4 linked regions of the Homo sapiens genome follow. The protein of the gene in region 4 interacts with the protein of the main gene of each other region in a pairwise test. Each region holds a gene or a part of one and is shown on either strand. Other genes may lie near its edges.

Region 1 (8,636 bases), on a different chromosome or scaffold from region 4:
CAGTAGACTGCTTGTCATGAGCAGAGAGAAGTCTGTGTTCTACCCTCTTTTGACAAAAGGCCTCAGAGGTTATCTAGGTCTGATATCTTTAAATTGTTAGTGGAAAGTTTCATCCACCTTTCAAGACATTATGTGAAAGTTGTGGATTTTGAATCTCAAACACTACACCCTGGAGCTGGCAGTCTCCACATGCCATTACTATATTTGAAGAGGGTGAATTCAGTTTGTGAAACCCAAAAAGATGCCATCCGTAAGTAAATAACCAACTGAATGTTGGTTGAAGGATGTGAAACAAAGATGAGTGTAGTCAATTCAGAAACATGAACCCATGGGGAAGAGAACAGTGGCCACAGCTGTGCAGAACAAAACTGGCCAGATGGGCCAGGCACAGTGGCTCACACCTGTAATCCCAGCACTTTGGGAGGTTGAGGCAGGCGGATCACCTGAGGTCAGGAGTTCGAGACTAGCCTGGCCAACATGGTGAAACCCTGTCTCTACTAAAAATACAAAAATTAGCCAGGCGTGGTGGCACACACCTGTAATCCCAGCTACTGGGGAGGCTGAGGCAGGAGAATTGCTTGAGCCCGGGAGGCAGAGGTTGTAGTGAGCCAAGATCCTGCCAATGCACTCTAGCCTGGCTGACAGAGCGAGACTCTGTCTCAAAACAAAAACAAAAACAAAAACAAAAACAAAAACAAAAAAAACTTGCCAGATGGAGGATTTTATATCTTGCTTTACAGCAGCACATTATATTTTCTTTACCAAGGCAATGCATTTTCCCCAATAATTGCTGCCTTTTCAAAAAGACCTATTATATGCCAATTACTTGACATATTAATAAGCCTCAGGATATCTATACAGTAGGAGGAAAAAATTTCAGCAAGTTTAAGTAACTTGATCAGGAGCCATGGCTAGCATTGGTGGAATTGGGATTGGAGCCCAGGTTGTCACTAAGCTCCAAGCTTTGTTCTTTACACCACCATCCAAGCAACTTCAGATGCTGCCTACTTGCTAAGATAGAGTGGCAGACCTCTCGGCAGAAGAGGTCCAAGGAGGAAGCCCGCTTGAGCCACCATGCCTCACTTAGCACACTGTCAGGCCCGCAGAATCTTACTTGACTGTTTTATGAAAGGGCTCCTCTCTGCTATGAGGACAAGATGGTTGATTTTTTTTTTTTTTTTGAGACAGTTTCATTCTTGTTGCTCTGGCTGGAGTGCAATGGTGCAGTCTAGCTCACTGCAACCTCCATCTCCCAGGTTCAAGTGATTTTCCTGCCTCAGCCTCCCAAGTAGCTGGGATTACAGGCACCCGCCACCACACCCGGCCAATTTTTTTTTTTTTTTTTGAGACAGTTGTTGCCCAGGCTGGAGTGCAATGGCGCAGTCTCAGCTCACTGCAACCTCCGCCTCCCGGGTTCAAGTGATTTTCCTGCCTCAGCCTCCCAAGTAGCTGGGATTACAGGCACCCGCCACCACACCCGGCCAATTTTTTTTTTTTTTTTTTTTTTTGAGACAGTTGTTGCCCAGGCTGGAGTGCAATGGCGCAATCTTGGCTCACTGCAACCTCTGCCTCCTGGGTTCAAGCAATTCTCCTGCCTCTGCCTCCTGAGTACCTATGATTACAGACAGGTGCCACCACGCTGGGCTAATTTTCATGTTTTTAGTAGAGACGGGGTTTCACCATGTTGGCCAGGCTGGTCTCGAACTCCGGACCTCAGGTGATCCACCCACCTCTGCCTCCCAAAGTGCTGAGATTACAGGCATGAGCCACTGCGCCCGGCCTGAAAATTTTTTTAACTTGTCTTTCAGTGTTTTAAATCTCTCTAATGCTAGCCAGCCTAGGATTACTCTTTTCCAAAATTAAAATACCTTTAAGTTATTTTCATTATAAAAATAGACCAGACTGGGTGCAGTTGCTCATGCCTGGAATCTCAACACTTTGGGAGGCTAAGGCGGGAGGATCACTTGAGCCCAGGAGTTCAAGACCAGCGTGGGCAACCTAGTGAGACCTTTTCTCTACAAAAAATAAAAATAAAAAAATTAGCTGGGCATGGTGGCATACACCTGTAGTCCCAAGCTGAGGCAACAGGATTACTTGAGCCCAGGAGGTCAAGACTGACAGTGAGCCGTGAATGTGTCAGGGCACTCCAGCCCGGGCAACAGAGTGAGACCCTGTCTCAAAAAAAAATAAAGTAAGGGCTGGGTGCGGTGGCTCATGCCTGTAATCCCAGCACTTTGGGAGGCCGAGACGGGCGGATCACGAGGTCAGAAGATCGAGACCAGCCTGGCTAACACGGTGAAACCCCATCTCTATTAAAAATACAAAAAAAATTAGCCGGGTGTAGTGGCGGGCGCCTGTAGTCCCAGCTACTCAGGAGGCTGAGGCAGGAGAACGGCATGAACCCGGGAGGCAGAGCTTGCAGTGAGCCGAGATCGCGTCACCACTCCAGCCTGGGCGACTGAACGAGACTATACTGAGTAGACTATACTTGCTGCAAAAATTCAAAAAAGTGTACGGAGCAGATGAGAGCCTCCTTGCCCATCCTCCTCCCCTAGTATAGCCTTGAATTCATCTCCCAAACAGAATAGGATGGGTCTTTTAGTTACTCTCGCAGAGGGCTCTGTAGTGCTGATAAGAGAGCTGAGGAGCCCCTCTTAGGTTTTCAGATGACACGTCAGGCTAGCCTTATATTTAATAATTTAAATTTAATAATAATTATTTCAGTTTTCAAGAAACTTACTGAATCTCACCTATGTGCTAAATGTTGCTGATTGAAGATGGGTAAATAGCCTCTGACCTTAGGGATCTCATTCCTGTGTTGAACACTCGTGTGTAAACCAAGGGTTACAATGGTAATCCCCCAGTGAATACATACAGAGTACCAATTTTAGAAGTGGTTGAAAAGTTTTTTTAAAAAATCAGAGAATTACACATGTATAATTAGCTGCTCATCCTAGAAGTCATATATCCAGACCAGGCGTGGTGGCTCATGCCTGTAATCGCAGCACTTTGGGAGGCTGAGGCGGGTGGATCACTTGAGGTCAACAGTTCGAGACCAGCCTGGCCAATATGGTGAAACCCCGTCTCTACTAGAAATACAAAAATTAGCCGAGCGTAGTGGCGCATGCCTGTAGTCTCAGCTACTCGGGAGGCTGAGGCAGAAGAATTGCTTGAACCTGGGAGGCAGAGGTTGCAGTGAGCCCAGATCTCGCCATTGCACTCCAGCCTGGGTAACAGAGTGAGACTCTGTCTCAAAAAAAAAAAAAAAAAAAAGTCATATATCCAAATGTAAGAGTACTTTGCAGGTAAGCCTGACTCAGTCTGACATAGGGGTGGCTGTCTGGGAGCAGCACACCCACTCCAGGATCCCCCAGAAGCATTCGTTGTTTCTTTCTGTTTTTTTTTGGTTTTGTTTTTTCTGTTGCCCAGGCTGGAGCAGTGGTGCGATCATGGCTCACTGCAGTCTTGATCTCCTGGGCTCAAATGGTTCTCCTAACTCAGTCTCCCAAGTAGCTGGGACCACAGGCACGCACCACCATGCCTGGCTAATTTTAAAATTTTTGTATTTTTTGTAGAGGCTGGGTCTTACTACGTTACCCAGGCTGGTCTCAAACTCCTGGGCTCAAGCAGTCCTCCCGTCTTGACCCCCAAAGTGCTGGGATTACAGGCATGAGCCACTGTGCCCAACCTCATTGTTTCTTTTCATTTTGGTTATTGAGCTCTCTCTGGATAACATCTGCAGAATGTTTCATGTGTCCCGAGTATGTGCCAGGCCAATTACTCAGCAATTCTGCTTCAAGAATCAGTCTGTATTCCATTACACCAGTGGTACATTTTCAAAATGGAAGGAATATAAAATGTAAAAGTATTTGCTACGCAGAGGAGGGAGACACTACTGCTGGGACTAGAATCGAAGTTTTCTCACACCCAGTTCAATGCCTTTTCTACAACATCCCTCAGTTGAGCCTTAGGGTACCAAGTGGATGGTCATTAGTCTTGTATGGACTTTATATCCAATGCTGATTATAAGGTCTAGATGATGCTAGGTGGCAGAGATTCAAAGTTGGACAGGTCGGTTACTGTACTTGATAAATAAACAGCCCAGTGGCAAGACAGATAAATAAACTGACCATTTACACCCTGAAAAGGTGGTCAGTTGCTTAGGGAACTGGGGGAGGGGCGCCAAATGGAGGAGTAGGGACATGGTAGAGAGGGCTTTTCAGCATAGTGAGTGAATGAATGCTCATTTGAAGAAACAACTTGTGTTTAAGATGTTTTTCTTTCTTCCAGAGCTAGAATCTGGAAGAATCTCTGGGCTTTCCTGCTTTGAGGGAGAGATCAGGCTAGGTGCATTGCCAATTTGCTGCTGAAGATCTGATTAGGTTCTGCTTTGATGTGATCAAATGAGATGTAATCAGTGCTGGTACTTTAAGTGAGTTTGCAACTATTTAGTTGCTCTTTTTAGTAGTAGTATTAGTAATGGTAAAACTTAGTGCTTTTAGGATGAGAGTAGACGGCCTGAAGAATAATATCTTGGGCTCTTCTAATCAAGCCATACGGCTCATTGGCAAGTCATCAGAGGAAACATCTATCTATCTATACATTCATGCAATAAGTATTTATTTAGTGCCTATGTGCCAGACACTGTTTGTGGGGAAAACAAGACACATGGGCTATTATTGCCTCATGGAAGGAACTAAGCTGTTTGGATTTTGAAAAATCCCTTTCTCTGGGCCTCAATTCCTCGACCTGTTCAGAAATGTGCGCTCACAATGGTCCTAGACATCTTAGATTCAGGTTCCATTTTCAGTTCTTTCCTGTCCTGCGGCCATCTGCAAGTTAATTTGGTCTCCCTGAACCTCAGTTTCCTCATCTGTAAAATGAAGATCATACAACTCGTTTCATCAGGTTGTACTGAGGCTGGAAAAGATAGTCTAACTACTGACGCATCGTGTGCTCAGCCTAGGGTGGCTGCTACCGCGGGTGCCTGCGGACTCCTAGGACGGGCACCAGCCCGGGACCCCTGACAAGGTGTTGATTAGGGTGTGGCTAAGCCCCAGGCGGGAGAAAGCGTTGGCATTTATAAGGCCAGGGTCTGGCGCGGTGGCCTCATTCCGTCTTGAAGTAGACCCTGGAGAGGTCTTCCAGGCTTGGGCTCAGCACGCGAGCACAGGGAGCGGGGGTGCCGGCGGCGGAGGCGCGTACGGCCCGAGCAGCCCCCAGCCCCCAGCGCGCACACTTGGGCCAGGGGCGCGAGGAGTGCGCGGCCGCCGGGTGGGCGCTGGGGAGCGGGCCCTGGGGGCGGAGCCTGCAGCCCACCGCCCCCCACACACCCCAGCCGAGGCCCGGAAGGGGCCAGGCGCGCTTCCGTCTCCGCCGGGGATGCACGGAGGGCGGAGCTGCGGCCCGAGGACGCGACGCGAGCCCAGTTCCGGCGAGGAGGCCGCGCCAGTGACAGCGATGGCGGCGGAGTCGGCGCTCCAAGTTGTGGAGAAGCTGCAGGCGCGCCTGGCCGCGAACCCGGACCCTAAGAAGGTAAGCGAGGGGGCGGCGCGTAGCGGGATGGGCGTTGGGTCGGTGAGGGCCCCGTAACGGTCGCGGCCCGAGCGTGGCGGGGTTCGGGGGCTGGGACCCTGAGCCAGGCCCCGCGGGGCTGGGGTCGTGAAGTTCGCGGCCATTGACCGCTGCCCGCGCGTTGGGACCCCGTGCGTCGGGCGTCGGGACGCGGGGCCCCGGCCGCTCCCCCTCCCTCACGGGCCCGGGATGGGGGCGCGCCCGGTGCGGACACCGCGTGCCTAGCGCTTCCTCCCAGAGGCGCTCCGTGGCGTCCCGAGCCAGCTGTTTCCTGCGGGAGAGCGTGCCCGGGGCGGGAGGGCGCTGGCCGCCGCCTCGTTGGCCTCCCGGTGCCTGCGCTGGTGCCCGGCTCCCCGCGGAGCGGCGCGGACTCCCCAGCGGGTGCGTGTTCGCTGGGAGGAGAAGACGGGCGCCCGAACGCTGCGGAGCCTGGACTCGCGGTCTGGTCCGCGCCTCTCGGAGACGCGGTTACTACTCTCCGGCTGGATATCAGAGCGTGGACCTTTCGCTTTCTCAGTGAATCCCTTTCAAAACAGAATAAAGCCTCGCGTCACCTAAGCATACTCCTGAAAACTTAGGTTGGAATTGAAAAAGAGGCGGGGGCCCGGGGTTGGAAGTCGCAGCTAGGTTTCCTTTTGGCCATTAATAGGAAGGTAAGAGCTACCGTTTCTCGTTGTTCGAGTGATGGACAACCATTTTTAATTGTAGTTAACTAGTTTTTGTTGTTTATTGTACAAACTGAATATTAAGTTAAACGCGTTCTTGTACCTTTTCATCTTTCTGTCACTCACTTCTCTGGTCTCCAGGAGACAGTCTGGTGGTTGTCAGGATTTTTTTTTTTCTTTTTTTTTTTTGAGGCGAGTCTTGCTCTGGTCGCCCAGGCTGGAGTACAGTGGCGCGATCTCGGCTCACTGCAACCTCCGTCTCCCGGGTTCAGGCAATTGTCTGCCTCAGCCTCCCGAGTAGCTGGTATTGTAGGCGCCCGCCACCACGCCTGGCTAATTTTTGTATTTTTAGTAGAGACAGGGTTTCACCATCTTGGCCAGGCTGGTCTTGAACTCAGTTGTCAGGATTTTTTAAGTGGAAGTACAACGATGAAAAAGCACTTATGTGTTTGGCATTCTCCGTCATCATTCTGGCCGGGGCGGGCAGTTCTAGGAGTTGGAACTCAGTCCTGGTGGAAAAGGAAGTCGTGGAGGGAGGGCTAGGGCCGTGGGGGAACTGCTCTGCTGAGCCTCTTCCTCACCTGCTGCTTCCTAGGACTAACCTGAAAGGCTAAGGTACCAGGCTGAAAGTCAGTGCTCAGAAAACCAATCGTCATTCTTTGGGGTTTTTTTTCTTGAAGAGCCACTTTCTCTTTACCTTGTTCTAGCCTGTTGGAGGTAGGGTTTCTGCAATTCCAAAGGCCGTACACAGCCTCTCACCATCAGACCACTTTTTAAGGCTCTTCGTTCATACCTAGCTCGAAGATTCACTTCCTCAGGAAGCCATTTTAGTTACAAATCTGGGAAAACTTAAAATGCTTTCATTGTGCCATGTTTTCTGTTGCAGCTTCAGTACCGTACCTAGTGGTCAGGCATACTTACAAGTTTCTTTTTACAGTAACCCCTTGTGGACATCTAATAAATGGTCATTATTTTTTAGTACTAGTTTGTTTTCCTGAACACTGTAAGATCTGTGACTGACGTTTGATACCTTAAAGCAGTGCCATATAATAACTACCCACTATTTGTTCTTTATTTCTGTCAGATAAAAATGTTCTATGTAGTGTCTACAGTCATTTTTTTTTTAACTAGAATTTAGATTTGGAAGTAGTTTTTCTATTAGTTGATTTGCATGAAATACAAAATTAGGAAAAGGCTTATTCCACCTCAACCTAGTTGAACTATTAATGATTTTTTTTTTTTTTTGAGGATTTGGGCTCTTTCTAGATAGAAAATCACCCTGAACTTCTAGCTTTGCATTGTGAAGTGAGCATCATGAAGATGAGAAAATGTTGGGAGATCATTTTTGCAAAGGGCATAATAGTCGGCATTCAGATATGAGTTAACTGCAGAGGGAAAATTGCAAGCTGTCATGTTGGCCTTGTTCCTCTCAACCTTCTGGTAACCTAACAAGCTCCTACAGGTTGTATGTGAAATTGCAAGATGATTATATAGCCCTGTTGAATTTACAACCAGATCTTGCTTTCAAACCATTATTAGCCAAGGGTTTGATTCCACACCTGTGTTCATGGATTTTTTGGTACTAGACATTGCTGTAACTCTGTTTTCACTTTTTCATCTGTTATCTTGGCTCACTTAAGGGAGAAGGTATCAGCAGCCTAGGACCACTTGGTTTCTGTTTTTATGTTTCATAGTTCATGGCTGATAAAAATTACCTGTCCTTAGGCCGAGTGCAGTGCCTCACACCTGTAATCCCAGCACTTTGGGAGGCCGAGGTGAGTAGATCACCTGAGATCAGGAGTTCGAGACCAGCCTGGCCAACATGGTGAAACCCCTTCTCTACTAAAAGTACGAAAATTAGCCAGGTGTGGTGGCAGGCGCCTGTAATCCCAGCTGCTCGGGAGGCTGAGGCAGGAGAACACTCGAACCCGGGAGGCAGAGGTTGCAGCGAGCTGAGATCGCGCCATTGCACTCCAGCCTGGGCAACAAGAGCGAAACTCCGTCTCAAAAAAAAAAAAACAAAAAAAACACACACACACAGTTGGCCGGGCGCAGTGGCTCACGCTTGTAATCACAGCACTTTGGGAGGCCAAGAGGGGCGGATCATCTGAGGTCAAGAGTTCGAGACCAGCCTGGCCAACATGATGAAACCCCATCTCTACTAAAAATAAAAAAATTAGTTGGTCATGGTGGTGGTGCCTGTAATCCCAGCTACTCGGGAGGCTGAGACAGGAGAATCTCTTGAACCCAGGAGGCGGAGGTTGCAGTGAGCCGAGATGGCACCATTGCACTCCAGCCTGGACAACAAGAGCAAAACTCCATCTCCAAAAAAAAAAAAAAAAAAAAAAAGGATCCTCGTCCTGTGTTACATTTTCACTGTGAAAGCTACCAAGAACA
Region 2 (3,520 bases), on a different chromosome or scaffold from region 4:
CCACCATGTCAGCCGCATTTCCTGGAGCCTCTCTGTATCTTCCCATGGCCCAGTCTGTGGCTGTTGGGCCTTTAGGTTCCACAATCCCCATGGCTTATTATCCAGTCGGTCCCATCTATCCACCTGGCTCCACAGTGCTGGTGGAAGGAGGGTATGATGCAGGTGCCAGATTTGGAGCTGGGGCTACTGCTGGCAACATTCCTGTGAGTATGACCTCATCAGAAGAAACTCAGCCCTTGTGTATTTTAACTTTCTGAAATGACTTCATATTCATTCTCTTACCATTTCTGGATGATAGTTGCCAGTGTTGGTACAACTACTGACATCCAATACTCAGGCAGAAAGTGTTTGAGGGGGCAGAACTGTGGCAAGTGAGTAGCATCTCACTGGGGGCTGAGTTAACCAGATTCTTTTGTTTTCATGTCTGTCGAGTCCTGCTTGCTGCTTTTCCAGTTCATTGTGGTACACTGAACTGGTCTAGTAATGCTCCTTATTCATTCCATAAGCATTTACCATTTACTTAATATTTGCCATCAGCATGGTGTTGCACTAGGAACCCTGATAATTAAAAAAGTAGAATGTATAATCCCTAGTAAGTAGCTTTTAGAAAGATATTAACAATTTTAGTTATCATTTTTTCCTACTTAATTCCCCAGTGCGTGGGATTTAGAGCTCAAATGACTGCTCAGTAACTACATGCTAGAGATGAAGTGAATGTGTCATTAGCGAGCCTTCAGTTTTCCAGTAGTTCATTCAAAAACTGTGTAAGGGCGAAGCACGGTGGCTCACCTGAGGTCAGGAGTTTGAGACCAGGCTGGCCAACATGGTGAAACCCCGACTCTACTATAAATACAAAAATTAGCCGGGCATGGTGGCAGGCGTCTGTAATCCCAGCTACTTGGGAGGCTAAGACAGGAGAATCACTTGAACCTGGGAGGTGGAGGTTGCAGTGAGCTGAGATCCCACCACTGCACTCCAGCCTGGGCGACAAGAGCAAGACTCTATCTCAAAAAAATTAAAAAAAAAAAAAATTAAAAATTAAAAACTATGTAGGGACCATGTGGGATTCATACATGGACTGGCACCCTGTCCCTGTTTTGGGAATGTGAGTAGGACAGTGGTTCTCTACCCTCAAAATGACTGTTGGTCTGGTCTGTTCATGTTCAGAAGGTAGCCATAGGCTTCATCTTAGAGCTGGAACCCTTTGAATGAGTGGTAGGCTCCCTTTCCTGTTTGTATCTTTGGGTTCACATAAAGTATAGACCTACTTTAGAACTCAAATTGGTGGCGGAACTAGCTCCTTAAAACGCAGCTGGTTAGCACATTGCCTCATCCTAACAGGCCTCTGCTTCCCCTATGTCCCCTTCGCTTATATTAGCTGCCCTGTGCCCATTCTATCATGTCATTTCCTTTCAGCCTCCACCTCCTGGATGCCCTCCCAATGCTGCTCAGCTTGCAGTCATGCAGGGAGCCAACGTCCTCGTAACTCAGCGGAAGGGGAACTTCTTCATGGGTGGTTCAGATGGTGGCTACACCATCTGGTGAGGAACCAAGGCCACCTCTGTGCCGGGAAAGACATCACATACCTTCAGCACTTCTCACAATGTAACTGCTTTAGTCATATTAACCTGAAGTTGCAGTTTAGACACATGTTGTTGGGGTGTCTTTCTGGTGCCCAAACTTTCAGGCACTTTTCAAATTTAATAAGGAACCATGTAATGGTAGCAGTACCTCCCTAAAGCATTTTGAGGTAGGGGAGGTATCCATTCATAAAATGAATGTGGGTGAAGCCGCCCTAAGGATTTTCCTTTAATTTCTCTGGAGTAATACTGTACCATACTGGTCTTTGCTTTTAGTAATAAAACATCAAATTAGGTTTGGAGGGAACTTTGATCTTCCTAAGAATTAAAGTTGCCAAATTATTCTGATTGGTCTTTAATCTCCTTTAAGTCTTTGATATATATTACTTGTTATAAATGGAACGCATTAGTTGTCTGCCTTTTCCTTTCCATCCCTTGCCCCACCCATCCCATCTCCAACCCTAGTCTTCCATTTCCTCCCGCCAGTCTCCATTGAATCAATGGTGCAGGACAGAAAGCCAGTCAGACTAATTTCCTTCTTTCCTCGCACTTCTCCCCACTCGTCATCTTTTAACTAGTGTTTCACAAGGATCCTCTGAAACCCTCTCTGTGCCCCAAGTACAGATGCCATTACTTCTGCTTTCGTATCTCCTCAGGCAAAAGTGGAGGGTGCCTTATGGGCCCTCCTCATAGGTTGTCTCTGCATACACGAACCTAACCCAAATTTGCTTTGGTGCCAGAAAAACTGAGCTATGTTTGAACAAAGATGTCGTGCAAACTGTACTGTGAACAACAGTTGGTTTAAAATATGAGGGGCAAGGAGGAGGATGCATTTCAAAAGCTTGATTGATGTGTTCAGAGCTAAATTAAGAGGAGTTTTCAGATCAAAAACTGGTTACCATTTTTTGTCAGAGTGTCTGATGCGGCCACTCATTCGGCTCCCCAGAATTCCTAGACTGGGTTAATAGGGTCATATTGTGAATGTCTCACTACAAAATGACTTGAGTCCAGTGAAATCTCATTAGGGTTTAAGAATATTTCAGGGATCCTTAATGTTTTGATTTTTGTTTTCTGAAATTGGATTTTATTTTATTTTATCTTATAATTTCAGTTCATCTAAATTGTGTGTTCTGTACATGTGATGTTTGACTGTACCATTGACTGTTATGGAAGTTCAGCGTTGTATGTCTCTCTCTACACTGTGGTGCACTTAACTTGTGGAATTTTTATACTAAAAATGTAGAATAAAGACTATTTTGAAGATTTGAATAAAGTGATGAAGTTGCATTACACCTCACTGCAAGGATTCTTTACTTAGCTTGTTTTTAGATTTCTTCTATATATATTTTATTTATATCCCATCTAGAATTCAGCTAGGTGCTGCTGCTGCTCTGTTTCCTTTGATGACGCTTTGAAATAAAGGCAGGAGTACAAGCCTAAGACTTGATCATTTCATGAATTCCATTCCAGATGTTCAACTTTTCATCATTTTACTCCAACCTCTTACAAATTTTGGAATTTCGGACCTAAACTTAGAAATGAGGGAACTATTGATTCTCCTAACTTGCTCTAAAGTTTGGCTTGAAGAAAAGGTTCTGGTATAGCAATTTGTATACGTTGAGGATGACCTTTAGTTTCTCCAATGTTCTATGTGGAGAAATACTGAAAACTCATAGAATCTAGGTTGCCAAGATAGATTCCTCAGCTCTTTTATTTATTTTTTGAGACAGGGTCTCCCTCTGTCACCCGGGCTGGAGTGCAGTGGCAGTGTCTGCTCACTGCAACCTCCACCTCCCGGGTTCAAGTGATTCTCCTGTCTCAGCCTCCTGAGTAGCTGGGATTACAGGCACCTGCTACAACACCTGGTTCATTTCTGTACTTTTAGTAGAGACGGCTTCACTGCGTTGGCCACGCTGGTCTCAAACTCCTGACCTCAAGTG
Region 3 (8,851 bases), on a different chromosome or scaffold from region 4:
AGGCGAGGGGCGCAGGTTCTGCCAGTCAGGTGGAATTGGCCAATCAGCGGGGATCCAGTCAGGTGGTAGTGGCCAGTCAGTGGGAAGTGGCCAATCAGGTGGCAGTGGCCAGTCGGGTGGTAGCGGCCAGTCAGGAGGACCTTGCCAGTCTGGAGGACCCTGCCAGCCCGGTGGGGTCTGCCATCCAGGTGGAGTCTGCCATCCAGGTGGATTCTGCCAGGCCAGTGGATTCGGCCAGACAACAGGGCCGGGCCAGACAATGGGGTTTGGCCAGATCACTGGGTTCTGCCAGATTACTGGGTTTGGCCAAATCACTGGGTTCTGCCAAGCGACTGGGTTCTGCCAGGCTGGTGGGGTCTGCCTAGCTGGAGGGCTCTGACGTGCTGGTGGGGTCTGCCTGGCTGTCTGGTTTTGCCAGCCTGAGGGGTTCTGCCAAGCCAATGGCGTCTGCCAGAGCACATTGGGGGGTGCGCCAGGTGGGTTCTGAGTGGTCACTGGAACTGGTGCAGACCTCCAGGTCCCTGCAGCCAGTGGGGCCCGCCTCTGATCCCCACTGCTGTTCTCTTCAACATTCAAGTTATTAATCTGCATCATCAGAGAGAAGTTCAGAATCACCAGTGGGTTCTGTGTCCTCACCTTATCTATTCCAGGAATGCCCTCTAAACCCTCACCTGTAGTGACAGCCTGACCCACTAGCCATTGGTCACCCTGAGTCCTGGGTTTGTCTTTCACTGTCTTCCAGGCAGGAGTTTCATCTCCGAGCCAGGCCAGGAGCAACCCAAAGATGGGGCCTGAGGCTTCTCCTCTTCCTATGTCCACCACTGGTTCTGCCTGTACCACCCTGAACAAATCACTCAAGTCACTTCACCTCTCTGGCACTTAATTTCCTTCTTTGTAAAATTGGCACTATGATCCCTACCTGGTAGGAGGTGCCTTTAAGGTTTAATGAGACAACCTGTGTGAATGTGCCTAGCTCAAGGCTTAACACATGGTGGTTACTAACATAACAAAATGTAAACTGAATTACATACAGGTTGTATATATTATTTGTGTCCATGTATTATCTCCCCATCAGTTTGTGAACATCCGGAGGACAGGAATAAACATTCTCTTCAAATGCCCTATAGCCTAGCTGAATACAGTTACATACATTGTTTTGTTTAGAACAAATGAACACCCTCAGAGAAGAAAGGAGACAGCCCCAAAGCAAAATGAAGTTAGCAGAGATCTCACCTTGCGGGTCCTCTTGCCCCGAATTATTGTCCGGGACTCCAGATTCTGAGCCTGGGAACCATCTGCTGATGTCTGTGCAGTTGCACCGTCAGGTTCAGAGATACCTGGGTCGGTCTCTATGTCAGCCTGGGAAGTGGCCATTTTGGCCTGATTTACATTCTGGGTCTGGGTATCAGCTGTTGGGGCCTTAGTGGTATCATTCCAAGCCTTGAAAGGGGTCTTAGGCCTGCTGTTGGCCAGGTCATTGGCATTGAGAGACTGAGAGAAATTGTAGGTGGCATTTGGGCCCACTTTAGTAGTGGCATTCTGGGCCTTGAAGGCCATCTCAGACTTGTTAGCAGCTAACTCACCAGTGGTTGCTGCCTGGGAAAAATCATAGGCAGCATTTGGACCCTTTGGGGTAGCATTTTGGGACTTAAAGGCTGCCTTGGGCTGCGTGTTGGGCACATCCTTGGCATTATGAGCCTGAGAGAAATCATAGACACCATTTGGGCCTTTTGTGGTGGCATTCTGGACTTTAAAGGCTGACTTAGGCCTAGCGGCAGCTGCTGAAACCTGAATGTCAGCCATCTCATTGGCAGTTGGGGGCTGTGAACTCTGGGGACTAGCAGCTGCGGTGGCCTGGTTAGTAGGTGGAGCCTCTGAGATCTGGATGGCCTCCATCAAGGTCTGCATAAGCAAGGCGCTGTCTTCTACGGAGGCCTCAGCCTGCAAACACAGGGGGGAAAAAATTAAATCTCTGGGCCTCTGAGGCAGGAGGTGGGGTGGGAATAGGGAGCCCGGGTGGCAGCGCAGCAGCGGAGCTGCAGGCGGGCGGTGGGTGCAAAAACAGGGGGGCTGAGGCAGAGATCTAGGGGGCCCGCGAGGGGCGATGGGGGACCAGGCGGGTACTAAACATGTGGCAGGGGTGAAGTAGGGCAAGGGCAAAATGAGGGGTGGGGCGGTATGCGGAAAGTGGGCACGAACAGGAGCCGGGGACGCTCCAAGAGGCGTGCAGTAGCAGCTCAGGACGGCAGGCGGATCGCGGAGTTGAGAATAAGGGGGGTCGCACAGAGTGGGGAATGCAGAAAGAGGGAGGGTGGAGGCAGGAGGCTGGGGGAGGGGGTGACAGACTGCTCTACAAGCGTCAGGATTCTGGAAAAAAAAAAAAATGGTTCCTTACCCACCCCGCATTCTCTGGGCAGATTGCCCTGACTACTAACAGGGTCTCCCCTCTCTCTGAGCAGGGACTGATGGCTGAAAAGAGACGCCCCTCCCCCCCTTCGATAAACGATGGGAATTCGAAAAGCCCACGGAGTCTAGTCACTAAATAGGGTCAAACCGGATCCCGGCGTTTGGGAGACCAAAGAGGCCCGCGGGGAGGGGTGACTGTCGGCTGGGGAAATGGTGGGGTGGGGAGTGGAGATCTCACCTGGAAGCCGAGGAGGCCCGCACCACAGTCCATTTTCTGAGCCATGGCTCCTGTCCCTCTGGCAAGAGCGGAGCCTGGGGGCTGTGGGAGAGGGGCAGGGCGTTATACTACAGAGGGCAAATACGAAGGACCTAATTGGGAGGGGGGTGACTGTGGTCTGACTGTGCGGGCGGATAAGGTGAATGTGAGGAGGAACGGATCGGAGCGGTAAAAGTGAATGGGCGTCCAGATGGAGGTTCTGAACCCCGAGAAGCTACTGACAGGGCGAAGCTTCAAATGGGGATCGGGAAGCAGATGAGTTCTGAATTCGGAGCGGGGGTGCGGTTGGGTTGGGATTCGCATTTGGGAAGTTGCATGGAGGTTTTGAGTCAGGAGGAATCATCTAACAGTACAGATCGAGGTCAAGGAATCTGAGGATTTCGAACGATGGGAGGGATCGGACAGGGGTTTTGAATCAGGAAGGATCGGGAGGGGCATTGAATTGGGGTTTGGGGGGTGGAAGGGGATTCAGAATCCAGGGTGAAGGGATCGGGATAAAAAAAAATGGGGGCCCGCACCAGGGGGCAGATGCCCAGTCTGGGGGCTAATTCTCACCTTGCCTCAGGCCCCAACCCCAACCCCCTCGCTGCCTCCCTTCTTCACGACTCAGAGGATCGGGATTGCTGGGCTCGGCTCTCAGCAGCCGCACTCTCTCCTTGTCCAGGAGAAAATGCCAGCGCGGCAGCTTGGGCGACCCCGCCTCTTCGCCTAATATACCACCCACCGCCTCAGGACGTTACGCGCATGCGCAAACACTGAAGAGCCAAAGTCAGTCCCGCCTGCTTTCCCAACAAAAGCTTCGTCCTGGAGACCATGATGCGCATGTGCGCTGGAAGGCGGTCCCGCCCCCTTTGCCAACACACCACCCCACCACCAACCAGGTCGACACTATACAACAGCACCTCCCCTTCCTCTACGCCCCCTCCCCCACAGATGCGCTGTGCCTCTTGGTCCCACCCCTTGCCCCACACACCGGCCCCCTACCTTTTCCGCAATGCGTCTCTATTCCGTCCCTCCCCTATTCAAGGCCCCTCCTGTCAGGCCGGCTTGCATCTCCACCCCCTTGTCCAGCATGCTTAGGTCTCTGTTTGGGGTCTCTAATTGCAACAAGTGTTAGACCTCTGCTGAGGAAACGGAATGGCCTGAGAGGATACACTATTGGAGCTAACAAAGTAGTAGTAGTAAGTCTGTGGCTGCCACGTGACTCCATGATTTCTCCCTCACCCCCTGCCCGCCCCCACAAGCTCCCAGACGCAGAAAGAACGTTAGTTTCTTCCCTTTCTTTCTGCAGCTCCGGTGATGGACTCATTTTGTGTGTGTTGGGGGAGGAAAGGAGGGAAGGGCACAGCTTGTACATCACAGCAGGATTTGTGCTGGGGCTTGTCTTCCTGTCACAGCAGCCCTGGGAAGTGGATGTCAGCACCCCTATTTTGCAGATCAGGAAGCTGAGGCACAGATACATTGCATGAACTAGACAAGGCCACAGAGCCAGGAAACAAAATGCAAAATTTGGGTCTGGGTCTTCCTGACTCCAAAGCCCACATTCTGCTCATGCTGGCCTGGGGACTAAGGGTACCCCTCCCTCCTCCATTTGAGCAACAGACCACGGCACCCCATTTGTACCAAACAAGCAAAGTTTGTGTTCTAGGAGGCCCAAGCTCATGCTCTGCATTCAGGAGGACACAAGCAGAGGCCCCCACCCTCCCCCTGCCCTGTGTGGGTCCATCCAGGCGTGGGAATTGCTCCTTGGGGTCCACTCTGTGCTCAGAACATCAGGCCTCTTCCTTATCAGGGATACAATCACACTGTCCCTGAGGCCTTCCTGGTGCCCACTGGAGCAGCCAGGACAATCAGACCTGTGTGTCTGAGCCATGGCAAGCCCTGGTTCCTTTCAGGGCTGGGGCCTGGGGCAGCTGTGGTTTTATGGAGAGAAACTGGGCTGGGCTTCAGAATTCCAGGAATGGAGTGCCCAGCCTGTCTGTCTCGAGCTGTGTGAGCCCGCACGGGTCACTCAATTCTCTGGGCCTGGTTTCTCAATGTGCAAAGTGGAATGCACAGCAAGTGGGTCCTACCCAAGGACACACACGCTGCTATGCTTCCAGGATAACTGGAGAAACTCAAAAAGGCAGAAAATTAAATACAGATGTGAGGTGACTCAAATTAAACTGGTACAGTTCCAAAATTCAAGACAGATCTTTGTGCAGTTCACATTTGTTCTGGCATCAACTCATGCCAGAAGCCTGAACATGAAAGGAAGCTAATGCTAGGAAGGACTGCAGCATTTGGTCCCCAAGGGCCAACATCAGTTCTGCCTGGCTGGATGACTTTCCTCATCTGTTGCATAGCAACCTCCTCTGTCAGCTGCCTGTTTTTCCTCAGCACTTCCTCTGTAAAGTGTCTGCAGTGAGACGTGATCAGACTCAGGAAAGGAGGTCAGAAACACCATTTTCTATGCTATCTGTTTCCATATCTGTATCTTCGGTCATGACTTGGCCTATGAATTCTAGATCCATAGTAACTACCTACCTCACTTCTCCAAATGGATATCTCTCAGTATTCTCTAAATTAACAGGTCCCAAACCGATTCCTTCATACGCCTCCTCCTTCCCACCAACACAGTGTTTCTCCTCTAGTTATGCCTTTCTCCCCCATTTAGAGTGTAAACCTCTTAGGGAGACAGATTTTTGTTTTATTCATTGTTGTTTCCCCAGCACCTAGAACCATGCCTGGCACATTTTTATATCCTCAATAAATATTTGTTAAATGAATGAATCGCACTCTCCATCCCATTGCTAAAGCAAGAAACCTGAGAGGCAATTTTTCCTGTGATCAATTCACTTATTTTTCCTCATTATACAAATAATGCACACTCATCACTATACATTCAAACACTGCCTAAATATTTTAGAAATTAAATAAACATCACTAAATCTCATCACCTTGGACAATTGCTTAGATTTGGTGCTACCTTTTCATACTTTACACACATATATGTTGTTACATAAATGATGTGTTATATATGCCAGACCTTAAATTGCATTCTTTTCCTTACTGCTTCCCACTTCCTTTCAATTCTACCTTCACCTGCCAAACACTTGTTTTTAACACCATTTGATATCCTTCCATACTCAAAAGTTGTTTTTTATTTTTACAAATTTAAGATTACATGAACTTTTATGTGTCTGAATTATCTTATTTGACAACAGTCTACCTGTGATTCGTTCTTTTAAATGACTGCATAATATTCCATGGTAAGAATGTACCACAATGTATTTAACCATTCCCCCATGGATGGAATCCATTTTAGTTTCAGGATTTTTGTGGGGAGCGTGGCAATACAACAACATTGCAATAAAAATACTTGTACATGTATTCTTATACTTTAATAATTAATGTTTGTCTTTATTTCCGTGACACCAGAAGCCCAGGAGTAAGACTGACATACTCTACAAGACTTTTCCTTTTTTTTTTTTTTTTTGCCAATCTTATGTGTATTTATTGGTATCTCCTTATGGTTTTAATTTATATTTCTGATAAGCAATGTGGTAGAACACATTTTTATACATTAATGAACATATTAGATTTATTTTGTAATATGCTTGTATATTTTACCTGTTTTTCATTTGGGTTGTCTGTCTTACTGACTTTTAGGAGTTCTTTATATAGCGTTATAGATCCTTACTGAAAACCCTTGGGGCCAGATGTATTTCGATTTTTAACATTTTAGTAAGGTCATATATATTCTTACTTAACAGTTCCAAGTGCAAAAGCCACAAAGGCCAGATATTCACTTCTTCACATGCCCTTGGCAGCTAAGAGAATGTGATCTAGGATTTACCAGTGTGGCAAGCTCCTGAAGACCATCCTCAGATTCAATGATTTGCTAGAAGGATTCGGAGAACTCAGAAAAAGTGTTATGGCTATTGTTTATTACAGTGAAAGGATACAGATTAAAATCAGCAAAAGTAAAAAGTGCATAGGGAAAAATTCAGGAGAGACCAGGCACGACTTTTCAGTTGTACTCTCCCAATGGAGTTGTATGGCCAGTGCTTAATTCCCCCAACAATGATGTGTGAAAACATGTATGAAATACTGTCAACCAGGGAAGTTCACCCAAGCCTTGGTGCCCAGAGTTGTTTTTGGGGTTCAGTCAGATAGGCATGGAGCACCTGTGTGGTTGACCTTAGTTATTCAGTCTCTAGTCCATGCAGAGGTTAAACTAGTATCTCTCAGCCCAAGGCTCACACCACAAATCACACTGTTAGCACAAACTATCCAGTGTGGGCCAAGGCCACAGTAAACAAAGACACTCTGATCAGGCAGGATACTTCCAAGGGCTTACAGATTATCTCCCAAGAGCTGGTCAAGAGCCAAAGCATTCTTTGCAAAAGACCTTTTTTTGGAAAGCATAGGGTTTGAACATTGCAGACCTGCTGAGTACAACCCTTTCACTGCAGTTACAACTTAGACCTAACACTTTGTTTCAAAGGAGTGATTCAAATATGCAGTGATGGAATTCACCACCATAGTTGTGGTGGTGGGAGCAGCAGCCACAAGAAAATCCAGTTTCTAGGGGCAGCATTAGTGGCAGGGCTAACATCCGGTGTCCACTGTTCAGTAGCGGCAGCAATGGTATCCAACCAGCTAATACATATGGCTTTTTTTTTTTTTTTTTTTTTTTTTGAGACAGAGTCTCACTCTTTCACTCAGGCTGGAGTGCAGTGGCATGATCTCAGCTCACTACAACCTCCACCTCCCAGGTTCAAGTGATTCTCCTGCTAGAGCCTCCCGAGTAACTGGGATTACAGGCACCCACCACCACGCCCGGATAATTTTTCTATTTTCAGGAGAGATGGGGTTTCACCATGTTGGCCAGGCTGGTGTAGAACTCCTGACCTCAGGTGATCCACCCACCTCAGCCTCCCAAAGTGTTAGGATTACAGGCATGAGCCACCATGCCCGGCCCTATGACATGATTTTTGAAATATAACTGATGCCCTACTGCTTTTAGGTAATATTTTATTAATTCTGCTTTTAAAAAACTTTTTAAACTTTTTATTTTGAAATAATTACAGATACACAGGGAATTGCGAGGATAGTACAGTGAGGTTCTATGTACCCTTTATCTGCTTCCCCAATGGTTACATCTGTGTAACTGCAGTACAAAATCAAAACCAAGACACTGACATTGGTACAATATGTGTATATAGTTCTATATCACCTTATCACATGTGGAAGTCTCTACAAACACCACAGCAATCAAGACACAGAACTATTTCATCACCACAAAGATTTCCCTCTTACTACCCCATTATAGTCACAACCAACCCTCCTCCACCGCCCCCATCCCTAACCCCTGGCAGCCACTAATGTGTTCTCCATCTCTATAATTTTATCATTTCAAGAGGTCATGAAAATGTAATCATACAATATGTCACATTTTGAGATTGGCTTTTTTCACACTCAGCATAATGCCTGTGAGATGCATCCCAGTTGTCTTGTGTATCAGAGTTTCTTGTTTTATTGTTGAGTACTATTACATGGTATAGAGGTGCTACAACAGTTGGTTTAACCATTCACCCACTGAAAGACATCTGGGTCATTTCCAGTTTTGGGCTACTGTGAATGAAGCTGCTACACACATTTGTGTACAAGTATCTGTGTGAACCTAAGTTCCCAATTCTCTGGGATAAGTACCCAAGAGTGCAATTGTTGGGGTATATAGTAAGTGCATGTTAGTTTTACAAGAAATTACCAAACTTTCCTAGAGTGATCATACCATTTGACATTCCCACCAGCTATGTGTGAAGGATACAGTTTCTCCAAATCCTTGCTAGCATCTGCTGGTGTCAGTATATTTTGGCCATAGGTGTGTAGTAATATCTTACTGTGGTTTTAATTTGCATTTCCCTAATGGCTAATGATGTTGAACATCTTTACATGTGCTTTTCTGCCATCCATATATCCTCTTTGATTAAATGCCTCTTCATGCCTTTTACCTATTTTTTAATTAAAAAAATTTTGTGGGTACATAGTAGGTATATATATTCATGGGGTACATGAGACGTTTTGATACAGGAATGCAATGTAAAATAAGCACATCACTGAGAATCCATCCCCTCAAGCATTTATCCTTTGAGTTACAAACAACCCAATTACACTATGTTA
Region 4 (8,768 bases):
CAATTTAAGTGTTATATAAGAATTATGATTAGTGACCATTAAATATTTTTAAAGCATTAATAATTAAAACTACATGCAGGGGTAGAAAAAAAACAATGTGATAATATGGCCTACATTCTGAAATTCTGAGAAGGCTTTCCTCTTGGGTCATAGGTTTCAATCAGACTAACATCATCCTCCTAAGGATGTTTACAGCATAAGAGGAAATAACCTTGCAAGAGTTAACTTTGCAAACCAAACCTATCGAGTGCCAATAAATACCATTCTACAATTAACAAGTTTTCTCCAACTGTAATAATAAAAACACTCCAAAAACTTCAATAGGAATCCTAACAAGTTCAACCCTCTGAATTTCATCTTCTACTTCTCTAAATGCAGTCAATTAAAAAGTCAATTGCTATTGAGCAAAATTTTCTGACGTGCAGACCAAAAAAATTGATTTCAATTGCTATTGAAATTTCAATTGCTATTGAGCAAAATTTTCTGACGTGCAGACCAAAAAAAAAAGCAAATCTACATAAGAAATATCTTCTTCTAGGGAATGTAAAAAATGTAAAGTTCAAAGCTGAAGTTGATGCCATAATCGGAACAATTATCAAAGGTCAGCAGAGTTAGAAGCAACCTAAGAAATTATCCAGATCACTACTCTCTTTTACATAAGAAAGCCAAGGCATACCAAAAGCATGCCTATTAGGCTGAGAATAAATTTCAAATTTATGGAGCAGATATAGGCAAAATTAGATCAATACTGGTACCAGAATACGTTTTAAAACATGCAAACTAAGCTTAATAAATCTAAGTACTTACATTAAGAAGTAATTCATCTTTTGTTTTAAGAGGAAAATTCTTATTTTCCTTCTCAATTTGTAAATCATCATCTCCATCTGACAGCACTGGAGGAAGTGATATACAAGAGGAAGAAGACGACGATGAGGAAGATGAAGAGGAAGACGATGAACTTGAACTATCTGAATCTGTTTCACTGTAGGGAAGAAAACAGTTAAAAAAATAGTCCAGTATTATTATACTAATATTAAAATAAGATTATTCAATTAAGAAATATCAACTTTAATACAAGTTTACTATTGCTTATTCTAATATTAAAATAAGATTATGCAATTAAGAAATATCAACTTTACTACATGTTTACTACTGCTGTTCTAATTCAAAACTAGCACTTCAAAACTGATATGGTATTGGGAAAGTAGTATTTAGTTTACCAATAACATTTTCAAACCTTTGCCATAACCCAGATCCTCTTATTACAATACTCTCACATATCATACACCTGTCTGAATATAAGCAAGCATGTGACAAACCACTAAAAAAAGGGAATTCTGGGCATGGCACCTCTCTTAGTCACAACCACCAGATCGCTTAATTGCCAGATTGCTTAATGAGTTTCTTCTCAGGCTACAGACAACTTGGGAAATCCTCAGTTACGAAAGTATGTAGACCATTCTACTTTCTGAAAACTCACTTGGTCCTTATCTTCCACAGAAATTATCGTTAACAGCAACCACTGTCTCAGTTTAAATTTTGTTTGTTGGCTCCCCACTTGAAGCCCTTTTATATACTATTTTTAAGGGTTCCATCCTCACTTTCTCTTCTTTCGCTACTACTTTCATGGATAATCCCATACACATTAATGATTTCAGTCATCATCCATGTGAATTAACGCCTAAATCTTCAGCTATGACATCTCTAAACTCCATGTCCAATCTCTGACGGCATACTGGCCACCTTTGTACGAATGGCCTATACACCCACACTCATAGCAAGTTAAAACAAGAAAAAGTGCATTATACTAACTAAACCTGCTTCTTCAGTTTCCATTTGATTTCACTGCTGTTAACTGGCAAAAAGTTGTACCCCTTTTGACTTCTTCAAATATTTGGTATCCTCTGCCATCACCCACAGAGTCAGAAGTAGTATCCTGACACTAAGTTGGCCTATTATGACGCCATATCCCTTCTGCTTTCAAAACGTATCCCCAAATCATCTACCATTTACTTTTCTTTGCTAGTAAAATGAGCTCTGAAATCCCACAAGATGATTATACTGCAATCTTAGTACTGCCAAGAAATCCAACCTTGTTTACAGTTGTTACTTCCCCCTCCCAGTACATTTCATACCCTCTCCTTCTACTCAAATCCTTCAGCCTTCTTCACTTCCACTCTCCGCTGATGACTTCCCTGAAAACTAAACTTCTCACCTCCTCAACACGTGTCTATCTTGTTAACCTGTTCAGTACCCCACTCAACACACTCAACTATTTGTAGACAATGTTCAGTGTGGTTTAGTAACATCCCACATGCTGGAGTCCTCTCCAGCCCAGAGATTTCATATTTAAAAGACAGGTGTGGGGGCAAGGGGGAAAGGCTCTCACAAAACGTAAGAAGCATAAGATACTACTAAATAACACTGTTTGGCTACTTTCATAAACACGTGTTCCCTGCAAGGATTCTATAAATTAACGTAATCATCAAGAGCCAGCTTTGAAACACAAAAAATAATACTTTTCCTGATCCCCAATGTATGTGGTTCAAAAAACAAAGCCTAGATGTGATGATAAAAAAAAATCAGATCTGACACAAAACTCAACTATAACCACAAAAGTACAGCCTAAACTGAGTAGTTACGGAAATAACCTAAGATCCTCGGGTTTTCTAAAGTCTAACAAAAAATGATACGATCTATACATAGAACCCTTCAGGCCACCAAATTTAGGAAATAAGTCAGTACTAAGCTCAGATTCACAACGCGACCTGCTTTGAGAGGCAGCGAATAAGGGGCAGTCGGAGCCAATACTTCAACACGTGAGCCCGGAGCACCAACGACCTGCCCACCCTCCAGGGCCCACACAAGCAACCTCTAGGCTCCTAGGCCCCAGCCACCCCCGCCCGTCATACAAGACCTCTCCCCACAGCTCCGGGTCCCTTAGGCACCCGACCTGTCCGAGTCCGAATCCGAGTCCGAGGTCTCCAAGGAGTCCGGCGCCCGCGCAGGCTCTGCGGCTCCTGGGGAGGTGACGCAGTCTCCGCAGGCCGGCGATTCAGCCGGTGGCTGTGGCTGCGGCGCCGGGGTCCCGGCCGCGACGGCGTTCAGAACGGGCTGCAGAGGCTGCTCCCCGGCAGGCTTAACCTCCACGGTCTGCCCAGCGTCCGGGGACCCCTCAAACGACTGTAGCGGCGGCTGTGTCCCTGGCACAGGGGCAGAGCCCGGAGACGGAGCCGCCGGACCTTCCCCAACTCCAAAGTCGGTGCCATTGAATTTCAGAGTTTCCAGCTGAGCGGCGGCGGCCTCCACTACCTCCATCGCACCGCGCCAGAAACCGGGTCGGCCTCAGGATTGGGGCCCCTGGACAAGCTCACGGCTCTCTCCAGAAATAGAAAAACAACTTAGGCAACCGCAGCAACACTGCCTGGGCCCAACTTCCCGCGTTTCTCAGGTAACTACACGCGGAGGAGCCAAAAGACACGCCCCCGCCATTTACGCAGCAACGCTTTCCGAAGAGCGTGTGACGTATGTGGCGCGACGGCGCGACGGCGCTCGCGGGGGCAGGATACATGCGTCATATCTTCGAAAATCAGGATTAGGGGGTCGGGCGCCGTGGCTCACGCTCGTAATCCCAGCACTTTGGGAGACCGAGGTGGGCGGATCACAAGGTCAGGAGTTCACAGACCAGCCTGCCCAACATGGTGAAACCCCATCTCTACTAAAAATACAAAAATTAGCTGGGCATGGTGGCGCGTGCCTGTAATTCCCACTACTTGGGAGGCTGAGGCAGGAGAATCGCTTGAACCCAGCAGGCGGAAGTTGGAGTGAGCCGAGACCGCGCCACTGCACTCCAGCCTGGCGAGAAAGCGAGACTCCGTCTCAAAAAAAAATAATCAGGACTAGGGAGGCCCTAAATCGACCGTTTTCACTGCGTCATGTGAACCATTCAAGGCCTGAATGTCGGATTTTCCTATTGCTGCATGTGAACCAATTCTGCTTGAAGCGCCAAAATGAAGCAGGGATTATACAACAGGGGGGTGCCTGAAGAATGCTAAGTTCTGTACATCAGAAACTTGAGCCAGGAAGTCTTGACAAGACGCTAGTAACTTCATGAAAGTTAAATGAAGTTTATCCATCAATAGATCCATCTGTCGATAGATAGGGTATTAACCATTTTTTCAAAAATGTAACTACAACTATTCCATTTTCCTTTCTCCAAAGTACCCTCAAAGAGAGCAGTAATGGACAAAATTTTGCTGTGTTGTTCATGTTATGGTGATGTCTATATCATACTTAGCACTGTTTCGTAGTAGAGAGATGAGACTATGAGACTGAAATGTACTCACTTATTGTTGGAAACCACTAGTCTAAATTGTGGAGAAAGCAAGCAGAGTTCTTAGGACTGAGGAAGAGATCAGAATTTTCTGGTTTCCTATTAGGTCTTCAGTTTGAGGCATCAGTCCCTGTGTAGTAATAATAATCATTGATACCATTTGTTAAACATGCATATGTGCCAAGGACTGTGCTAAAGATTTTATAAATTATTCACTGAGAATTTAGTGTGTCATCTACAACAGTAGATCTTCATAGAAATGCAAGGCAAGTGTAATAAGAGTAAGGTTTTAAGAAGCTTACAATCTACTTGAAGTAGAGAAGGGCAATGCACAGGAGATAACTAGAAAAATATTTGAAATATGAAATAGAAAATCCAAGTGCAGCAGAAATGGGAAGTAGGATTGGTAGGCTATTTCATGGAAATCCTCCAAAGTGAAGAAGGACTTTAAACTTGGGATACGAACTTACTAGCACAATGATTAAGCAGAGCTCAGAGTTTTCAACTAAAAAGACCTGTGTTCAGGCCTCAGCTCTACCATTTTGTGTTTGGTGTTACTGACTTTGGGCAGTTAATCTAAATCCTAATTTCCTTATCTGTAAAATGGAGATAAAAATACTATCTCATTTAGTTCATGTGAGCACTAAGTAAGGCTTTATATAAGGGAGTGGCATGTCATACATTCAGTGTGCAAAAATACTTGGAAAATGGAACAATGCATGAACTCACGAATAAAATATTTAATTAACAATGATCTTGCAAAGACATGCAGTACAGATTTGAGAAGGGAAGACGTTTGAGCCAGAATTATTCCCCAGCCAGCCACTTTGTTGCATTTTTCCAGGAATTAGGTGATAAAAGTCTGAACTAGGCTTACAGTCAATGAAATAGAGTAAAGGACATCCCCAGCATCAGGGGAAGAATAAAAGTACTCTAAAATTTCTGGTCAAGGAAATTAGAAAGAAGTTGGTATTACCAATAAAAACGGAGAAGTTGGCCAGTCGCAGGGCCTCACGCCTGTAATTCCAGCATTTTGGGAGGCTGAGGTAGGCAGATCACCTGAGGCCGGGAGTTTGAGACCAGCCTGGCCAACATGACGAAAACCCATCTCTTCTAAAAATACAAAAACTTAGCTGGGCATGGTGGTGGGCACCTGTAATCCCAGCTACTTGGGAGGCTGAGGCAGGAGAATCGCTTGAACTCAGGAGGCAAAGGCTGCAGTGAGCCAAGATTGCACCATTGCACTCCAGCCTAGGCAACAAGAGGGAAACTCCCTCTCAAATTAATTAATTAATTAATTAAACGGAGAAGTTGGAAAGAGATGTGGGTATGTGAAGTTGAGTCTGAAGAAAAACTAGACAATTAAAAATGTAAATAGGCATTTAAAAATAAGAAACTGGAATTTGACAGAAAGGTTAAGACCAGAAGCCTAAGTTATGGGATAATTGAAATACTCATTTGTTCATTCAGTAATCATTTTCTTAACATTACGATATGCTGTGCACTGCATTATAAACTATGCATACAGGAAGATAAACACAGTCCCTACCCTTATGGAGTTAACAGTTCAGTAGAACAGACAAGTTGAAAACAAGCAGAAGGTACTATAGTAGAGAAATGTACCATGTAAATGCAAGAATGTATGAAATGGGAAAACTAAAGACAGAGAAGATACTTGGAAAATTAAGGAAAATGTACTATAAGAGATATATCGTGGCTATAAGAGTAATTATAGCCATAAGGCTCACTCAAGTGTCTTGAGGGGCTGACACTAAATGTATTTATCAATATAATACTAACTGGCCCTGGAGATTTCCACCCCTGGCCCAGTGATTTCCAGGAGACCAGGCCACTTCAGCACAGATGCAACTTTCATGAACCTTAAAGCTTACCCTTGTAAGAATAGCTTCGACTCCATTTATGAGAGAAACATCTGATAACTGACCAAGCTGAATACAGGTTTTAAAAAGGGGGAAGAAACCCCCAACACTGAGAACAGTCTCTGGTTGGAGGCTCTCTTGATCATCCGAGCCCTGACTATCTGGTCTATACCCCCAGCCTCTTCCCACTATCTTTTAAGAGCGATGCCAGAATAAACTACTAAAGCATGAGACAGTCTCTAAGACTCATCTTTGACTTGAATAGAACTGAATGGGAGAAGTCACCTCTAGGAAAGCTGGTTAAACAGGACCACCCAACCACTGCCTCACTGACAATGACAAAAGGCTTTACAATGCGTGTGATACTTGAGCTGGACTTTTAAAGAGAACCATGAATTTGTTAATCTGAGAAAACAGGAGACCTTCACAGGGGATAATAAATAAGATCATTGTAATTTCCTGCTTAATTATTTATAAACTCTAAATATTTGTAAGCACACTTAGAATAAAATTCAGACTCCCTGCTTTGGCTTTCAACAGTCTACCTGATCTGGCCACTACTTACCTCTCCAGTTTCTATCTCCTACCGTCTTCCCCACCCTTGTTTCACATGAGCACTGGTCTTGATCTCCCTTCAACTCACCAAGTTAATTCTTCACGTGTGACATTTTCACTTTTCTGTTCTCTCTTCTCTTCATATTAACGTGGCCTTTTTACTCATTTATGGTTCTACTCAAACACTACACCTAAGAGAGAGCTTTCCAGACCACCCAATCTAAGTGCACCCCTCAATACCAATCACTTCCTAGCTTATAGCTCACTGTTTTTATTTAAATAGTATTTATCTTCACATGAAATTATATTTATTTACTTCTTTATTGTCTGTTTTTTCATAAAATTAAGTCTCAGGTGCCCAGGATCTTTGTCTAATTCACAGCTGTTTCTCTAAGTGCCTGGAAACAGAATAAATCCTATAAGGATTTTTGAATGGATGAATGAAAGAAAGAAAGAATAAAGCTCAATGGGACAATCAGAGTAAGGAATATGACTTAACAGATAATATCTGTTATTCTTTCAATTTAAATTAATCTGATGATATCTAAGAAAGGCTACTGTTTTTAAATAAAAGTCTTTTGTTTGTGTGGTGGAAATGTTTCTGTGTTTCAACATAATGATAGTGGTACCTATGCCTAGCTTTGAAGTAGGTCAGTGTTTCACAAATGGTAATTTTTCTAAGTGCTTGTTTCAGAATGTCCTGAATTTACCTACTTCCACAGCCTTCCTCTCAACCGCATTATTTCTAACAGTTGCTAAACTTAGCCTGAAGTCTTTAACCTAAGACTAAATCCAAAAAAACACCTTGGAAGACTGTGTAGCTTACAGGGTCACTATTAACGTTATGAGAGAATTTACCTTGAATTAAATTACAATTTAAATGGCATATTACATTTCAAAGGGAGCACGTAAAACTTAAATTATTTCTATAAATGTCACTGATTGATCTTAGTCTATTTCAATGTTTAAAAATACATGAATAGACACATTTACATTTCCAGAAACCTACAATGCACTTGCTAGATAAAAATGATGAGATTTTCTAATATATATCACAAAATGATTAAAAGCAGGTTATGTGACTGTTTGGGTGAGTTGCTATTCCTATTTATATATTGTAGCACTAATTTAAGTCAAGGTCATATGTTTGCATTGCCAACTAGTGTAGTAGGGAAAAGAGAGGTATAAGTGCTATTTTAACTCAAAATGGACTGAAACTCTACTGGACTCATTTGAGAGTATGGACAGAAATTATAGATTAGAGACTAGGCATCTCTTGCCACCTAGTCTCCTCTCACACTCAGCTTGTAAGAGAGTGACTTATCAGATAAGAGAGTGACATCTGACTGGTGATCTTGGGAAAAGGAACTGAGCATACTTGGTCCAGTATCTTTGTGTTATAGGAGATAGAAATTATTTAGGTAGAGAGTTAGGGTGAGTCCCAGGCAGAAAACTTTCCTTCTAACAAAAAGCAGCTCAGAAATAGCTCCCTTTTTAACCTCAATCAGTTCAAAGAAATCACTTCCTTTCTAACAAAGAGCAGCCTGGACGCTCAGGCTGTAAAACACATATAAGCAACTAAGGCACAGAGTGGGGAGTTTCCTGGGTAATCACCAAACTTCACATACATACAATGGGTCCCAGTAAAAACAGTGGGCCTTCATAAGCATATCTCTTTCTCTTTCTTTAGGCATACTAAGACAGGGAAGCTGGAAGTAGGCACAGGTGAGATACCTGCAGCTGCAAGAAGGTGCCTGGGAATAGGCACAGACACTCTTCCCTCCCTTTTAGCACACACAAACAGCACAGAGCAGCATAAACTAAGAGTGTACCCACATGATCAAAGAATGGGGTGGGGGCTGATAGAGACCCTGCTCTATGCAGATAGCACACCTGGTCCTAACCATTTGTTCGGGCCCTAGGAAGATAAGTCACACCCTCCTTACTAGCCCATTTATAAAAAACTGACATTTTTTACTACAACTTGGCAACCTGTTTGG

Evidence for each region.
Region 1: the proteins of NAF1 (region 4) and ELOA interact in binary tests that used the Homo sapiens proteins (3 or more experiments, as listed by UniProt).
Region 2: the proteins of NAF1 (region 4) and DAZAP2 interact in binary tests that used the Homo sapiens proteins (3 or more experiments, as listed by UniProt).
Region 3: the proteins of NAF1 (region 4) and MAGED1 interact in binary tests that used the Homo sapiens proteins (3 or more experiments, as listed by UniProt).

The regions. Positions count from the first base shown.
Region 1 is NC_000001.11:23,738,044-23,746,679, forward strand, and holds the start of ELOA (elongin-A), read left to right. Parts: upstream 1-5,427; 5' UTR 5,428-5,460; coding exon 5,461-5,535; intron 5,536-8,636. UniProt on the Homo sapiens protein: SIII, also known as elongin, is a general transcription elongation factor that increases the RNA polymerase II transcription elongation past template-encoded arresting sites.
Region 2 is NC_000012.12:51,240,914-51,244,433, forward strand, and holds the end of DAZAP2 (DAZ-associated protein 2), read left to right. Parts: coding exon 1-203; intron 204-1,416; coding exon 1,417-1,545; coding exon of another isoform or gene 1,546-1,739; 3' UTR 1,740-3,020; downstream 3,021-3,520. UniProt on the Homo sapiens protein: In unstressed cells, promotes SIAH1-mediated polyubiquitination and degradation of the serine/threonine-protein kinase HIPK2, probably by acting as a loading factor that potentiates complex formation between HIPK2 and ubiquitin ligase SIAH1.
Region 3 is NC_000023.11:51,888,143-51,896,993, reverse strand, and holds the start of MAGED1 (melanoma-associated antigen D1), read right to left. Parts: upstream 3,372-8,851; 5' UTR 3,239-3,371; intron 2,726-3,238; 5' UTR 2,690-2,725; coding exon 2,645-2,689; intron 2,368-2,644; coding exon of another isoform or gene 2,200-2,367; intron 1,942-2,199; coding exon 1,234-1,941; intron 586-1,233; coding exon 1-585. UniProt on the Homo sapiens protein: Involved in the apoptotic response after nerve growth factor (NGF) binding in neuronal cells. Inhibits cell cycle progression, and facilitates NGFR-mediated apoptosis. May act as a regulator of the function of DLX family members.
Region 4 is NC_000004.12:163,163,410-163,172,177, forward strand, and holds the start of NAF1 (H/ACA ribonucleoprotein complex non-core subunit NAF1), read right to left. Parts: upstream 3,482-8,768; 5' UTR 3,319-3,481; coding exon 2,954-3,318; intron 2,874-2,953; exon of another isoform or gene 1,813-2,873; intron 983-1,812; coding exon 808-982; intron 1-807. UniProt on the Homo sapiens protein: RNA-binding protein required for the maturation of box H/ACA snoRNPs complex and ribosome biogenesis.